Regions from separate parts of the Homo sapiens genome. Here region 2 is linked to region 1. A link means that fine-mapping ties the variant in region 1 to the expression of a gene that starts in the linked region. Tissue or cell type: whole blood. Region 1 holds a variant in brackets; the other region holds the start of a gene. All regions are shown on one strand. Distances are from middle to middle.

The links. PIP is the estimated chance that this variant, and not a neighbour inherited with it, causes the effect.
Region 2: WDR59 starts here. The variant in region 1 is fine-mapped to the expression of WDR59 in whole blood (TOPMed, PIP 0.99).

The regions. Positions count from the first base shown.
Region 1 is chr16:75,116,365-75,124,466 of GRCh38, reverse strand. LDHD (lactate dehydrogenase D) reads left to right here and starts at 7,687. Exons shown (of 11, transcript NM_194436.3): 1 at 7,687-7,818. The coding sequence starts at 7,747. It also overlaps a transcript of ZFP1 not described here. The variant C/T (reference allele first, on the strand shown) is at 3,099.
Region 2 is chr16:74,980,259-74,988,360 of GRCh38, reverse strand. WDR59 (WD repeat domain 59) reads left to right here and starts at 3,238. Exons shown (of 26, transcript NM_030581.4): 1 at 3,238-3,397. The coding sequence starts at 3,344. RefSeq lists silencers at 1,947-2,147, 3,183-3,492 and an enhancer at 2,793-2,852.

The sequences.
Region 1 (8,102 bases):
GCTTTGAAGCCGGGCGTGGTGGCTCACGCCTGTAATCCCAGCACTTTAAGAGGCTGAGGAGGGCAGATCACCTGAGGTCAGGAGTCCAAGACCAGCCTGGCTAACATGGCAAAACCCTGTCTCTACTAAAAAATATCAGAATTAGCCAGGAGTGGTGGTGGGTGCCTGTAATCCCAGCTACTTGGGAGGCTGAGGCAGGAGAATCGCTTGAACCTGGAAGGCAGAGGTTGCAGTGAGCTTTGTACCACTGCACTCCAGCCTGGGCAACAGAGCAAGACTCTTGTCTCAAAAAAAAAAAACTTTCAATTAGACAAAAATTGTTCACCTTTTTCAAAAGGACACACTTATTTTTTATTTGTATTTTACTTTTTTTGAGATGGAGTCTCACTTTGTCACCCAGGCTGGAGTGCAGAGGCGCAATCTTGGCTTACTGCAACCTCTGCTTCCTGGGTTCAAGTGATTCTCCTCCCTCTGCCTCCCGAGTAGTTGGGACTACAGGTGCGTGCTATCAGGCCCAGCTAATTTTTTTTTGTATTTTTAGTAGAGACAGGGTTTCACCGTGTCGGCCAGAATGGTCTTGATTTCCTGACCTTGTGATGCATCCTCCTTGGCCTCCTAAAGTGCTGGGATTACAGGTGTGAGCCACCACACCTGGCTGGGACACAACTTTTTTTAAGAAAGAATGTTTTTGGCCTGTGTGGTGGCTCACACCTGTAATCCCAGCACTTTGGGAGGCTGAGGTGGACAGATTGCCTGAGCTCAGGAGTTCGAGACCAGCCTGGGCAACATAGTGAAACTCTGTCTCTACTAAAATACAAAAAATTAGCCAGACATGGTGGCATGCATCTGTAGTCCCAGCTACTTGGGAGGCTGAGGCAGGAGAATTGCTTGAACCCTGCACCACTGCACTCCAGCCTGGGTGACAGAGGAAGACTCTTTCTCCAAAAAAAAAGAATGTTTTCCTACATATATATATATATATATATATATATATATATATATATATATATACATATACACACACACACACACACACATTCTTATATATATATTTGTAGGAAAACATTCCACAAATATATATACACATATATATATATATACACATATATATATTTTAGACAGAGTCTCTGTGTCGCCCAGGCTGGAGTGCAGTGGCATGATCTTGGTTCACTGCAACCTCCACCTCCTGGGTTCAAGTGATTCTCCTGCCTCAGCCTCCTGAGTAGCTGGGACTACAGGCATGCACCACTGTGCCCAGCTAATTTTTGCATTTTTAATAGAGATGAGGTTTCACCATGTTGGCCAGGCTGGTCTCAAACTTCTGACCTCACGTGATCCACTCGCCTTGTCCTCCCCAAGTGCTGGGATTACAGGTGTGAGCCACTGCACTTGGCCCAAATATATTTTTATTGGAAAATACCCAAATAATAAAATCTCTATTATTTAACTTTAGATTCAAAATTATGAGTTTGTCTATATTTATCCTATAATATTTACTTATTTTATTTTAATTACTTACCTAGATTATTTATAAAAACTGTGCTTGTCATTATTTAAAATTATGGAACTGCCATTGCAAAATTATCACTGAGACAGTGAAAAAGATTGCACCTAAGTGACTCCATCTTGCTTCTAACCTCCAAGCTGTTCTTGTTCATTCCTGGGCATAGGCCAAACTAACTTTGGGAGGAACTTATAATTTAGCTTTGAAACAAAGATGATAACAGTGCTTTTCCAAAACAAACACTATTGCCTATAGACCGGACTGCCTAAAGCCACAAGATGAGAAGTTATGGTAATCTTACTAAATTTAAGATGTAGCTATTTTTATTAAACCAATATTAATGTCTTATTTATTAAAGATTTGTTAAATATAGTGAACTCCAAGTTTCTCTTCAAAGAATCAGTATGTCAGTATGTTCAGCTCTCTTATTCTTTGATTCTCCATTTTAAAGTTTAGCTTCCTGGTTCTCTTTGCCCCCTAGCTTCTAGTTTCAGTAAACAACTTTCCCGCCAGTCCTAATCAGTAGTTCACAGCTGTTCCCCTGGTCACCTGCTTTGACCTGAGTCACTCTTGGTCACCTACTCTGTCCTGATTCATCCTGAGCCAACTGTTCTGTAACCGCCCTTACTGCTAAACTACTCACCCTGCCACTCCGGCTGGTACTCCTGCTCTTTTTAAAATAGTCAATTGGAATTAGCTTAGACTGTGCGGTCCAACCCTATCCAATAGGGGAACGACACAGCAGTAGGGGCTACCTGCATGAGGAATAAGAACTCCTGCCCCTCCCCTGTCCAAGTGTGCTCTCACCATTGTTTCATCTGCGAGGGGCACCTTTTCTGCAGAAAGTGAAAATTGCCTTGCTGAGAAAACTAAATTTATGTTTGAGTGCTATTTCTTTGTGGCACTGGGGAATAAGCATTTTGCATTTCTAACAAGCTTACACAAGCAAAGATCATTCTGTTTTGGGCTGGGTATACAGTTTTGTAACCCCTATGAGAAATTTTGACACCTTATAGTATTTGGCAGGGATAAGTATGAAACTGCTGGATTAATATGCAAACAAAAATGTATGCTGGCAATTCTTCAGACATTTCTAATATTACTTTACCAGTAATTTTAAGGCTAGCTTATTTATTAATAATTTTACTGAGTTACATAAACTTGAAAAAATATTTGACGAGTCTTTTTTCCTGATAAAGCATTTCATTCGAGCACTTTTATTTTCTTAAGCCAGTTAATTAGAGCTCTTTTAAGCATTTTCAGTAGTGAAGCATTGTGTACACAACACATAAATACATAGACGTATTAGGCATGCTGATAGAAGTACATCTTATGGATACACTCAGATTATTGATAACCTGCTTCACAACCCTAGGCAGTTGTCAGCTAACTAGCCTTATGTTTGCATATTAAAGGAAACAACTCAGGTGAAAATCAAATAGCAAAATTTACATCATAAGGTACAGAGAGAAAAAGTCTGATGGTGCCAGAGGGAGATGAAAGATGAATGCCAAATCAAACATAAAATTAAAGAAATTTGCCGGGTGTGGTGGTTCATTCCTGTAATCCCAACACTTTGGGGGGCCGAGGTGGG[C/T]GGATCACAAGGTCAGGAGATCGAAACCATCCTGGCTAACACGGCGAAACCCCGTCTCTATTAAAAATACAAAAAATTAGCTGGGCGTGGTGGTGGGCGCCTGTAGTCCCAGTTATGTCTGTACTCTCTGGAGTACAGAGATCACCCCACTGTACTCCAACCTGGGTGACAGCGAGACTCTGTCTCAAAAAAAAAAAAACAAAAAAGAAATTTATCATAGGATTGTATAAGGAGACTAGTTTTATTTAGATAAAGGGACTACCTTTTAAGTGGATCTCTGAGCTCTGGGCAGAGCCCACACTGAATCCTGGGTCTCCAAGAAGGGACACTTATTATGAGGTTAGAACACGTGATGCTTTTACAGTGCACTTTTTAAAAAACTTCTTTTAAACAAAGACATTTCTAAGTGTCTAAACCATAGTCTTCCTTAAAAACCCAAGGGTAGGCTGGGTGCAGTGGCTTATGCCTGTAATCCCAGCACTTTGGGAGGCTGAGGCGGGCGGATCATGAGGTCAGGAGATCGAGACCATCCTGGCTAACACGGTGAAACCCGTCTCTACTAAAAATACAAAACAAACAAACAAACAAACAAACAAACAAAAAACAAGCTGGGCATGGTGGCGCTTGTAGTCCCAGCTACTTGGGAGGCTGAGGCAGGAGAATGGCGTGAACCCGGGAGGCGGAGCTTGCAGTGAGCCGAGATTGCGCCACTGCACTCCAGCCTGGGCGACAGAGTGAAACTCAGACTCAAAACAAACAAACAAACAATACAAAAAACAAAAAACAAAAAAACCCAAGGGTAACCTCTGTTGCAATAACTATTTTAGTCAAAAAAAAAAACAAAAAAAAACCCAAAAAAAAACCACAAACAGGTAACAACAATACAAAAGTAAGCAGTTGAAGAGACGAGACGAACTTGCCTGTTTACACTCTGGGGATTGCATAAGAAAAAACAGGTTTCTCCCTTAAAGGGAGCCTGGTGCCTTCTCTGTTCTCTTTAAGGAACCCCAGCTATTATAAACTATTTTAGGTCCCTCATGCAGCAGAGGGTGCAAGAGAAAGGAGATACAGCCGAAGTAAATGAAGAAAACAGAATTCAGTCAACTGAGAAGAAAAAAACTTTCGCTCAAAAAAAGACAAGATTCTTGGAGAAAAACAAAAACAAAAACATGAAGTCCTTTTAAATACAAACACACACACGCACATGCGCACACACACACACACCACACATACACATGCACATCTTCGATGTTAGCTTTTAATTAAGCTGACTTTTAATCATTGAGCTCCTTTAAAAAAATCTTTTAAAATCTCATTACCATATTTCAGCTAGGACAAATTGCTGCTATTTCAGAAGCACAGCCATTGCTCTTTCAGTTTGGCCTGGCTAGCAAAAAGGTGGCCTCGTTGTGTAACTAAAGCCACTTAGTAGTCAAAATAAAAAATCTTTCCTTTTTTTTTTCCTTTTGCTGGCTGTTTTTCACCCCCTATCACATCATCCTTTGTGTATGTGTGTGTGTGTGAATTTAGCCACTTCAGAGGCCTTGTTCCCCATAATTTGGGACTTCCTTTGTATTTGATCAAGTCAGATAGAGTTGATCAAACCCAATGGGAAAAAGACTGAAAGAACAACAAAAAGAGAAATGAACAACAACAAAACAGTTAAGCAAAACAAATGATCACACAATTTATATGATTACTAAGCTTTCTAGTGGTAAGGAGAAATTAAGACCAGCTGGTTGTAATCTTAACTTTAGCCAAAACAAACCCCAATTCAGTTACTTACCTAGGGATGGGTTTCAGGCTGAAGACTGCTCTCTACCATCCTAGAAGCAGGGAAAAACCCTCATCTTCCCTGTTGGTTGCGAGCTCAAACACCATAAAGGAGTTACCTGCCTTCCATCAACATGGAAGCAGGAAAAATTTGCCTTCCTTGTGTTAGAAGCAAGTAAAACTCCAAAAAAAAAAGAGGAGTTGTACAACAAAATGAACTTTAGATCTTGACCAGATTTTGAAAGATAAGGTATTCTCTGGAGGGTGTGCTTCCGGGCCTCAGCAAATTGTCCTATTGGTTTGAGCCATAAAGATAGCTCAAGCTGGTACCAAGCACTGATAGCTTTGTCAAAGGTCAGGGGCGCCTCCAGTCAGAATTCTTCTGTGGTTACCAAAATATGAACCCCCCAAATCTGAGAAAGGTCTCAGTTAATTTAGAAAGTTTATTTTGCCAATGATGATGGTGTGACACAGCCTCAGGAGATCCCAATGACATGTCCCCAAGGTGGTCAGAGCACAATTTAGTTTTATACATTTTGGGGAGACTTGAGACGTCACTCAACATACGTAAGATGAACATTGTTTGGGTCTGGAAAGACAGGGAGGGGGCTTCCCGGTCATAGGTAGATAAGAGACAAATGTTTGCATTCTTTTGAGTTTCTAATTATCCTCTCAAAAGGAGGCAATCAGATATGCATTTAGCTCAGTGATCAGAGGGGTGACTTTGAAAGAATGGGAGGCAGGTTTGCCTTAAGCAGTTCCCAGCTTGACTTTTCCCTTTAGCTTAGTAATTTTGGGGGCTCAAGATATTTCCCTTTCAGACCTCTTCAGTAGAATTCTTTCTTCTGATGAGGCAAGCATTGAGTTTTATGTAGACCTGTATGGATTTCCCACCACTCACATGAAGACCATGACCTGTGACACATTCCCTGGAGGTCCTGAGAACATGTACCCAAGGCAGTTGAGTTACAACTGGTTTTATACAGTTTAGGGAGGCATCAGACAGTAATCAATATAAGCAGGGTATGCATTGGTTCCTTCTGATTGAGGGAGGAGCTTACAGGTCATAGGTGAATTCAAAGACTTTTCTGATTGGCGCTGGGCACGGTGGCTCACACTTGTAATCCCAGCATTTTGGGGAGCCAAGGCGGGTGGATCACTTGAGGTCAGGAGTTCGAGACCAGCCTGGACCAACATGGTGAAACCCTGTCTCTATTAAAAATACAAAAATTAGCTGGGCATGGTGGCACTCCTGTAATCCCAGCTACTTGGGAGGCTGAGGCATGAGAACAGCTTGAACCCAGGAGATGGAGGTTGTAGTGAGCTGAGATCACGCCACTGCCTGAGCAACAGAGTGAGACTCCATCTCAAAAAAAAAAAAAAATTTCTGATTTTCAATTGGTTGAAAGAAGTTATTATCCAAAGACTTGGAATCTTGGTATACAACAACAAAATTTTTTTTAAATAAAAAATTTTAAAAAAGACAACCTGGAATCAATAGAAATAAGCATCTGGGTTAAGATAAGGAGTTGTGGAGACCAAGGTTCTTTTTTTTTGAGACAGAGTCTCGCTCTGTCGCCAGGCTGGAGTGCCGTGGTGCGATCTCAGCTCACTGCAACCTCCACCTCCTGGGTTCAAGCGATTCTCCTGCCTCAGCCTCCCAAGTAGCTGAGACTACAGGCGTGTACCACCATGCCCAGCTAATTTTTGTATTTTTAGTAGAAACGGGGTTTCACCATGTTGGCCAAGAGGGTCTCTATCTCTTGACCTCGTGATCCTCCCACTTTGGCCTCCCAAAGTGCTGGCATTACAGATGTGAGCCGCTGCACCCGGCCCAAGGTTCTTATTATGTAACATAGATGGTAAATGTCTAAGGCGTTAAAAGGTGCCAGACTCTTAGTTAAATCTCCCTTAGATCAGGATAAAACCTGGAAAGAGGCTGGACGCGGTGGCTCATGCCTGTAATCCCAGCACTTTGGGAGGCCAAGGCAGGTGGATCACGAGGTCAGGAGTTCAAGACCAGCCTGGCCAAGATGGTGAAACCCTGTCTCTACTAAAAATAGAAAAATTATCTGGGCACAGTGGCAGGCACCTGTAATCCCAGCTACTTGGGAGGCTGAGGCAGGAGAATCGCTTGAACCCAGTGGGTGGAGGTTGCAGCACGCTACTGCACTCCAGCCTGGGCCACAGAGTGACTCTGTCTCAAAACAAAACAAAACAAAACAAAAAACCTGGAAAGGGGAGGGGATTCTCTACAGATTCTAGATTTTCCCCACAAAAGACAGCTTTTTGGAGCTATTTAAAAAAAAAATCAGAGGAATATATTTTGGGGGTAAAATACATTGATTTCTTTCAGGGCCTGCTATCTGTCAGGTGATGCTAGAGTCAGGTTGGAATTTGGTATCTTATTGCTACAAAGAGTCTGTTTTGTGTCTTAAGATCAGAATGCCTTAAGGTCTCTGTTTTAATGTTAATGCTGGTCAGTTGTGTCTGAATTCTAAAGGAAGGAGGGGGATAATGAGGCTTGTCCTAAACCTCTTCCCATCACAGCCTGAATTAATTTTTCAGGTTTATTTTGGAATGCCCTGGGCTGAGAGGGAGGTCCATTCAGTCGGTTGGGAGGCTTAGAATTTTATTTTTGCCTTACAGTTTCCCAAAACGTCCAGTGAACCTCGCCTCTCCTTTAGAAGTGTCGTCCCTGGAGCCCACGAAAATGTCTGCAAGATCTGCAAGGGCCACCTTAAAGCCCGTGCCACCTTAAGCAGGCCCCACCCCTGGCCTAGCCAATGGGCTGACAGCAGCAGTAGCTGCTGCCACAGTAGCTGACTGGTCACCCTGCCACCCAGTGCTCACACCCTCTGGCCAGTGCCTGGCTATGGCCCGACTGCTCAGGTCTGCAACCTGGGAGCTGTTCCCCTGGAGGGGCTACTGCTCCCAGAAGGCAAAGGTACCGGGAGAGAAGAGAAGTCCTCTGGAGGGATGAGGTGGGGAGCGGGGAGCAGGGGGTTCTGATCCCAAGTTTCCTGGGCTCTGTGACGCCCCAGCACCAAGTGACCTGACCTTGGGCAAAAGGGCACTGGGCTTACCCTGTGGCAACTGTGGGTGGGTGTAGAGTGAGATCAGCTGAGTCCCCACTGCTACCATGAGTGGGGCTGGGGGAGTCAAATGGATGCCCCTGGAATAAAACACACCTGTGGAAGAAGGCCCTGAAGGAAAGGGCCTGGGTTCCAG
Region 2 (8,102 bases), 140 kb after region 1:
AGATAATGGATGAGGTAGCCAGTCAGGAATGAAATGACTTTAATTTTAATTTTTTTTTAGAGACAGGGTTTTGTTCTGTCACCCAGGCTGGAGCACAGTGGCGCGATCATAGCTTTTTGCAGCCTCAACCTCCCAGACTCAAGCAGTCCTCTCACCTCACCTTCCCATGTAGTTGGGACTACAGATGCATGCCACCACGCCTGGCTAATTTTAATTTTTTTTTTTTTAGAGATGGGGTCTTGCCATGTTGTCCAGGCTGGTCTCGAACTCCTGGACTTAAATGATTCTGTCAAATAACAGGTGTGAGCAAACACGTCCAGCCTTTGCTCACACTCTTAATGGTGAAGTGTTTTTTTTTTTTTCATAGTGTACTGTATCAATATCTTAACATTATACTGAAAAGCTCAGATGTCGGGCCGGATGCAGTGGCTCACGCCTGTAATCCCAGCACTTTGGGAGGCCGAGGTGGGCAGATCACGAGGTCAGGAGATCAAGACCATCCTGGCTAACACGGTAAAACCCCATCTCTACTAAAAATACAAAAAATTAGCCGGATGTGGCAGCGTGCGCCTGTAGTCCCAGCTACTTGGGAGCTGAGGCAGGAGAATGGCGTGAACCCGGGAGGCGGATCTTGCAGTGATCCACCCACCACTGCACTCCAGCCTGGGCGACAGAAGGAGACTCCGTCTCAAAACAAAACAAAACAAAACAAAACAAAACAAAACAAAGCTCAGATGTCATATTCTTCAAGATTTCAAGATGCCATTTCGGGTCGCCTATTTAGGCTTTTCTCTCCTGCCATATTGCTTGCAAATCTATTATAATATACAAGTCATTCTGCCAAGCACATTCCTGTTGTAGAGTAACCAGTTGTCCCAGTTTGCCTGGAACTTATGGGTTTCTTGGGATGCAAGACTTTTTGGTGATGCAGTGCTAGAATATGAAAAGGGATCAGGCATGGTGGCTCACACCTATGGTCCCAGCTAATCCAGAGGCTGAGGCCGGAGGATCACTTGCTTGAAGCCACTACTTTGAAACCACCCTGGGCAACACAACGAGACCATCTCTACAAAAAGTAAAAAAAAAAAAAAAAAAAAATAGCTGGGCATAGTAGCACATGCCTGTAGTCCCAGTTACTTGGGAGGCTGAGGCAGGAGGATTGCTTGGGCCCAGGAGTTGGAGGCTGTGGTGAGCTATGCTCACACCACTGCACTCCAGCCTCAGTGACAGAACGAGACCCTTTCTCCAAAAAAATAAAAATAAAACATGAAACGGTCCAGGCAACAAGTTAGTCACCGTAATCTGTCAACAAGTCTGTCTTCCCCCTTATAGCCAATACTCCAGGAGGGAAGAGACCACACTTTCTTACCTCTATTCATACAATGACTTGCACATACAAATAGTGATAATATTAACAACAACAATAACAGTTTATTTTATTTTATTTTTATTGATTTCCTGGCTTCTAGAACTGAATTAATAGTTTATAGTTGAGCTTTTCTACATCCCAGGCCCTGTGCTTAGTTCCTTACAACAATCCAATGAGGTAAGCCATTTTTCCCTTCTATAGGGAAACTGAAGCTAAACCAGTTAAATCAACATTTAAGAGTGTGGGACTGAAAAGGAAACTTAATCACCACCCACCATGTTAGTACAGTGGTTCTCAAACTTTTTGATCTTGGAATCCCTTTACACTGCTGTTAAAAATTACTGAAAATCCCAAAAAAACTTTTTTTTTTTTTTTGACAAGGTCTTGCTCTGTCGCCCAGGCTGGAGTACAGTAATGTGATCCTAGCTTACTGCAGCCTCCTTCTGGGCTCAAGCCATCCGTCCACGTCAGCCTCCCAAAGTGCTGGGATTACAGGCATGAGCCACTGCGTCCGGCCCCCAAAAACTTTTATATGTAGTATACAGAATTTAAAAAATATATTCATTATTTCATTTAAACATTAAGGCCCTTCACATGAATACATTTTAAAATGAAAAAGAACAATATTTTCAAAAAAAAAAAAAAACAACAAAAAATTCTGGCAAATCTGTTTTAATGTTTGGTTTATCAGAAAACAGCGGCCGGGCGCGGTGGCTCACGCCTGTAATCCCAGCACTTTGGGAGGCCGAGACGGGCAGATCACGAGGTCAGAAGATCGAGACCATCCTGGCTAAAACGGTGAAACCCCGTCTCTACTAAAAATACAAAAAAATTAGCCGGGCGTAGTGGCGGGCGCCTGTAGTCCCAGCTACTCCGGAGGCTGAGTCAAGAGAATGGCGTGAAGCCAGGAGGCGGATCTTGCAGTGAGCCGAGATCGCGCCACTGCACTCCAGCCTGGGCGACTGAGCAAGACTCTGTCTCAAAAAAAAAAAAAAAAAAAAAAAAAGAAAAGGAAAGAAAGCAGCTGGATTGCAGGAGGGGGTATAGCTCACAGGTAGAGCATTGGACTACAGATCAAGAAAACAGCTGGATTCTCACATTTAAGTCTACCTTCATTGTTACGGGAGGCGCTGCTGTATTGTATGAAACAATAAATTGCACATTCAGACTTTTAAATATCTCGATGGGATAGGCATCAGGAGAAGAGGTATCTTCGGTTTGCACGAGCTTTGATTTTTCTTTTTTCTTTTTTTTTCCGAGACGGAGTCTCGCTCTTGTCACCCAGGCTGGAGTATAATGGCGTGATCTCGGCTCACTGCAATCTCCGCCTCCCGGGTTCAAGCGATTCTCCTGCCCCAGCCTCCCAAGTAGCTGGGATTACAGGCGCCCGCCACCCGGCTAATTTTTGTATTTTTAGTAGAGACGGGGTTTCACTATGTTGTTTAGGCTGGTCTCGAACTCCTGACTTCGGCCTCCCAAAGCGCTAGGATTACAGGCGTGAGTCACCGCACCCGCCCCGAACGTTGATTTTGATTTGAGACTGGGTCTGGACGAATGCTGGGGACTCCAGCGAGGAGCTAGTCAGGACAACAGGCACCTCACCTCACCCAAACCCAAACCTGCGAGCCCTTCCCAGGTCACCCACGCTTGCTCGAGCTTGGACTACAACTCCCGGCAGAGCTCGCGGCAGGGGGTGTGCCCGCAATCGCGAGGAGCGTGGGTGACTCAAACCAAGTGACGGAAGTGAGCGAGGGCGTGCCTGTTTGTTGCAGGCGCGGTGTAGCAATTGGAGGACCCAGGAAGAAGGGGCGGAGCCTATGCTTGGGTCAACCAATGGCTTGAGCTCAGGAGCAACCAGGGCACGGGGCGTGTCGGGGCTGATTCTCTGGCTGTGTGGGGCGCACGGTCCCGGGATACTGGGGACGGCGGGGTGGGAGGGCGCCGTCCTGGGGCCGCGGCGGCCGGGCGGGGGAGATGGCGGCGCGATGGAGCAGCGAAAACGTGGTTGTAGAGTTCCGTGACTCCCAGGTGAGCTAGAGGCCGAGTGGAGCCCTCTGGGCATGCGTCCTCCCCGCTTCCCCTCCCCCACGCGGCTGCTTCCGTCCCGGGGGGCTACGGGGAGACCCTAGGCCCCGTACTGAGGAGGTGGGCGGGGCTTAGCCGACCTCTTAGGCCCCGTCGGGGGAGGGAAGACGACCATCGGGGGCAATCGGGGCGAGCATGGACGGAGTTTCGGGGCTCCCTACGCGGGTAGGGGAGTGGGGTCCGCCTTGTGACACTGAGGCAGAGACTGCGCATCGTGAGTGCTGAGGGGAGGCTTCCCACAATCAGGGTACGGAGCGAGGGCGTGACGGCTTCCCGAGGCCCTAGCCGCGTGTGGCGACTTAAGGCAAGTCGCGGGACTTTTCTAAGTCTCAGCTGCGTGGACGTAACCCTGTTGGGGTGAATTCGATGAAACACTGTTTGCAAAGTGCCTGTTGCAGCGTCTACGCGGTTAAGTGGTTCTTAATGCCATCATACTGGAAAATACCGTGTAGTGGATAGGAGTGACACTGCACGTGTTGCCCGAGTTCGAATCCCGCAGCCCCTACCCTGTCATCACTCCGTACACGTCAGTTTTCTCACCTGTAGAAGGGAGATGGTCGTACTTACAAGATTGGCTTAAAGATTTTATTTTTTAATTTTCTATTTAATTTAATTTAATTTATTTTTTTTGAGATGGAGAGTCACTCTGTTGCCCAGGCTGGAGTGCAGTGGTGCCATCTTGGCTCACTGCAACCTCCGCCTCCGGGATTCAAGCAATTCTCCTGCCTCAGCCTCCCAAGTAGCTGGGATTACAGGTGCGCACCACCACGCCCGGCTAATTTTTGTATTTTTAGTAGAGACGGGGTTTCACCTTGTTGGTCAGGCTGGTCTTGAACTCCTGACCTCAGGTGATCCACCCACCTCAGCCTCCCAAAGTGCTGGGATTACAGGCGTGGGCCACCGTGCCTGGCCTATTTTACTTCATTTGAGACAGGGTCTGGCTCTGTCACCCAGGCTTGAGTGCAGAGGCGTGAATCACCGCTCAGTTCAGCTTCGACCTCCTGGGCTCAAGCTATCCTCCCACCTCAGCCTCCCCAGTAGCTGAGACTACAGGCGCATGCCAACACGCCCGACTAAATTTTTCATTTTTTTTTGTAGAGACGGGGTCTCCCTATGTTGTCCAGGCTGGTATGGAACTCCTGGGCTCAAGCGAACCCCCTGCCTCAGCGTCCCAAAGTGTTGGGATTACAGGTGTGATTCACTGAGCACAGCCTCGAGTGAAGATTTTATGTGGTTGTATGTTGAGGATGTGTGGCACACACAGCATTGGGATTTGGATGCTGGATCCTACCCCAGAGCCCTTGTTTAGCTCATTGGACTACTTTACTCATAGTGGGTAGCTCTGAACCGGTCATATACATCCCCTCTTCCCCAGCACCTAGGACAGTGTCTTGGTGATTCTCTTCAATTTTAAATTTATTTACCTTTTTTTTTGAGACAGAGTCTCACTCTATGACCCAGACTGTAGTGTAGTGGCATGATCTTGGTTCACTGCAACCTCTGCCTCCCAGGTTCAAACGATTCTTGTGCCTCAGCCTCCCGAGTAGCTGGGATTACAGGCACGTGCCACCATGCCTGGCTAAGTTTTGTATTTTTTGTAGAGACGGGGTTTCGCTCTGTTGGCCAGGCTGGTCTTGAACTCCTGGCCTCAAGTGATCCATCTGCCTTGGCCTCCTAAAGTGCTGGGATTACAGGTGTGAGCCACTACACCTGGCCTATTATTTTTTGTAGAGACAGAGTCTCTTTGTGTTGCCCAGGCTGGTCTTGAACCCCTGGCCTCAGGCGATTCTCCCACTTTGGCCTCCCAAAATATTGGGATTACAGGTGTGAGCGACTGTGCCTGGCCATTCTTTTCATTTATTCAACTAATATTTATCAAATACCTTCTGTGTGCCACACTTTTATTCACTCATTTATTCAACAAGGATTTACTGAGCTCCCTTCAGGTATACACTATACCATGCACAGGTGATTCATACTGAGGGAGATCTGGATAAGTATGAATGGGTGATGTGGTTTCTTCTTTCCAAAACCCCATCCTGTCTTTTGCCGGAGAATGAGTGAGTGGAGGAGCTACCCACCATTTTGCTCTGTGGTGCCCTCTGATCAGTAGCCTCTACTGAGAATTTGAGCAGTAGCATTTGGATTAAGGACCCCCAAGTACTGTCAGCACAGAGTCTCCGTGAGACCTGCTCTCCCTAGGGAGGCGCCAGACTCCTTGGAAAAGGAACCATATTCCTGTTTTCTTTCTTGTTAATTGCTTTTACTGGCAACTAGGACAGAATAGAATCATGTATCATGCCTCTAAGCCTGCTAATTTGGAAGCTACTAATCTGCAAACCCTTTAATTTTCACAGAAACCCAGGTAGTCTCACCCCTGCCTGTTTATAGAGATGTAATTGAAGAGACCTGCAGAGAGGGTGCTGACACATATATTAGGATGCTATGAAGTCGTAGCAAATAATTAAACCTCAACAGCAGTTGTCACAGTAAGAGAACAAAGTAAATTGGGTAATTTTACTGCCTTGTGGGAGTTTCTGTTTTTTTGTTCTGATTTTCCTATTTACAAGGCTTCCTCTTTATGTGAATTAGCATGGTTTTGTGGGTGATTCTGGTGATGATTGGAAGGGGCAGGAACCCATTTTATTAACTATTTTGTTAATGTAGAAAGACAAAGTTAAAACTCTTCATAATGCCTTTATGAATAGGAGCAATAAACTTTTCAAAACACTCCACATCTTTTAAATAATAATTTTATTAAAAAATTTTTAATTAAAATATTTAAATTTCTTTCATTTTGCATTTTTTTTTTAAATAGGGATAGGAGTCTCTGTATCTTGCCCAGGTGGTCTTGAACTCCGAGGTTCAAGTGATTTTCCTGCTGCAGCTTCCCAAAGTGCTGGGATTACAGGCGTGAGCCACCGTGCCTGGCCTAAAAAATATACATATATGGCCAGGCGTGGTGGCTCACGCCTGTAATCCCACCACTTTGGGAGGCCGAGGTAGGCGGATCACCTGAGGTCAGGAGTTTGAGACCAGCCTGGCCAACATGGTGAAACCCTATCTCTACTAAAGATACAAAAATTAGCCGACCATAGTGGCATGCACCTGTAATCCCAGCTACTTGGGAGGCTAAGGCAGGAGAATAGCTTGAACCTGGGAGGCAGAGGTTGCAGTGAGCCAAGATCTCACCACTGTACTCCAGCCTGGGCGACAGAGTGAGACTCCATCTAAAAAAAAAAAAAATATATATATATATATATATATATATATATATATATATATATATATATGTAAATGTATATGTATTGTCTAAAAAAATACAAAAAATATATATGTATATATGTGTAAGACAGGGTCTTGCTCTGTCACCCAGGCTGGAATGCAGTGGTGCAATCTTGGCTCACCTCAGCCTCAACCTTATGGTATCAAGTGATCTTCCCACCTCAGTCTCCTGAGTAGCTGTGAATACAGGTGCACACCACCAAGCCCCACAATTTTGTGTGTGTGTGTTTTTTTTGTTTTTTTTTTGAGACAGAGTCTCTCTCTGTCGCCCAGGCTGGAGTGCAGTGGCATGATCTCTGCTCACTGCAAACTCTGCCTCCCAGGTTCACGGCATTCTCCTGCCTCAACCTCCCAAGTAGCTGGGACTACAGGCGCCCACCACCACGCCTGGCTAATTTTTTGTATATATATATTTTTTTTAGTAGAGACAGGGTTTCACCGTGTTAGCCAGGATGGTCTCGATCTCCTGACCTTGTGATCCGCCCGCCTCAGCCTCCCAAAGTGCTGGGATTACAGGCGTGAGCCACCGCACCCGGCCTTTTTGTGTGTTTTTTTTTGCAGAGATGGGGCTTTACGTTCTTGTTCAGGCTGGTCTTGAACTCCTGAGCTGAAGTGATCCTCCCACCTTGGCCTAAAAATATATATTTTTTTATTTTTGAGATGGAGTCTCGCTCTGTTGCCCAGGCTGGAGTGCAGTGGCGCAATCTCAGCTCGCTGTCACCTCCACCTCCTGGGTTCAAGTGCTTCTCCTGCCTCCTGAGTAGCTGGGATTACAGGCGTGCCCCACCACACCGGGCTAATTTTTGTATTTTAGTAGAGATGGGGTTTCGTCATGTTGGCCAGGCTGGTCTTGAACTCCTTACCTGAAGTGATATGCCTGCCTCAGCCTCCCAAAGCGCTGGATTACAGATGTGAGCCATTGCACCTGGTCTGAAAATAATTTTTTAAAATTAAAACTTTTAGATTTTTTGGCTGGGCGTAGGCTAACGCCTGTAATCCTAGCACTTTAGGAGGCCAAGGCAGGTAGATCACCTGAGGTCAGGAGTTTGAGACCAGCCTGGCCAACATGGTGAAACCCCATCTCTACTAAAAATACAAAAATTAGCCAGGCATGGTGGCGTGTGCCTGTAATTCCACCTACTCGGGAGGCTGAGGCAGGAGAGTCACTTGAACCTGGGAGGCGGAGGTTGCAGCGAGCCAAATCGCACCGTTGCACTACAGCCTGGGCAAGAGCGAAACTCTGTCTCAAAAAAAAAAAAAAAAAAGACTTAGATTTTTCAGAGGAAAACCCCAGTCTGAAGTGTGAAAGTCTTTTTTATAGTTTATAAAAGTGCCATTTATTTTATGAAACAATGCTTTGGGC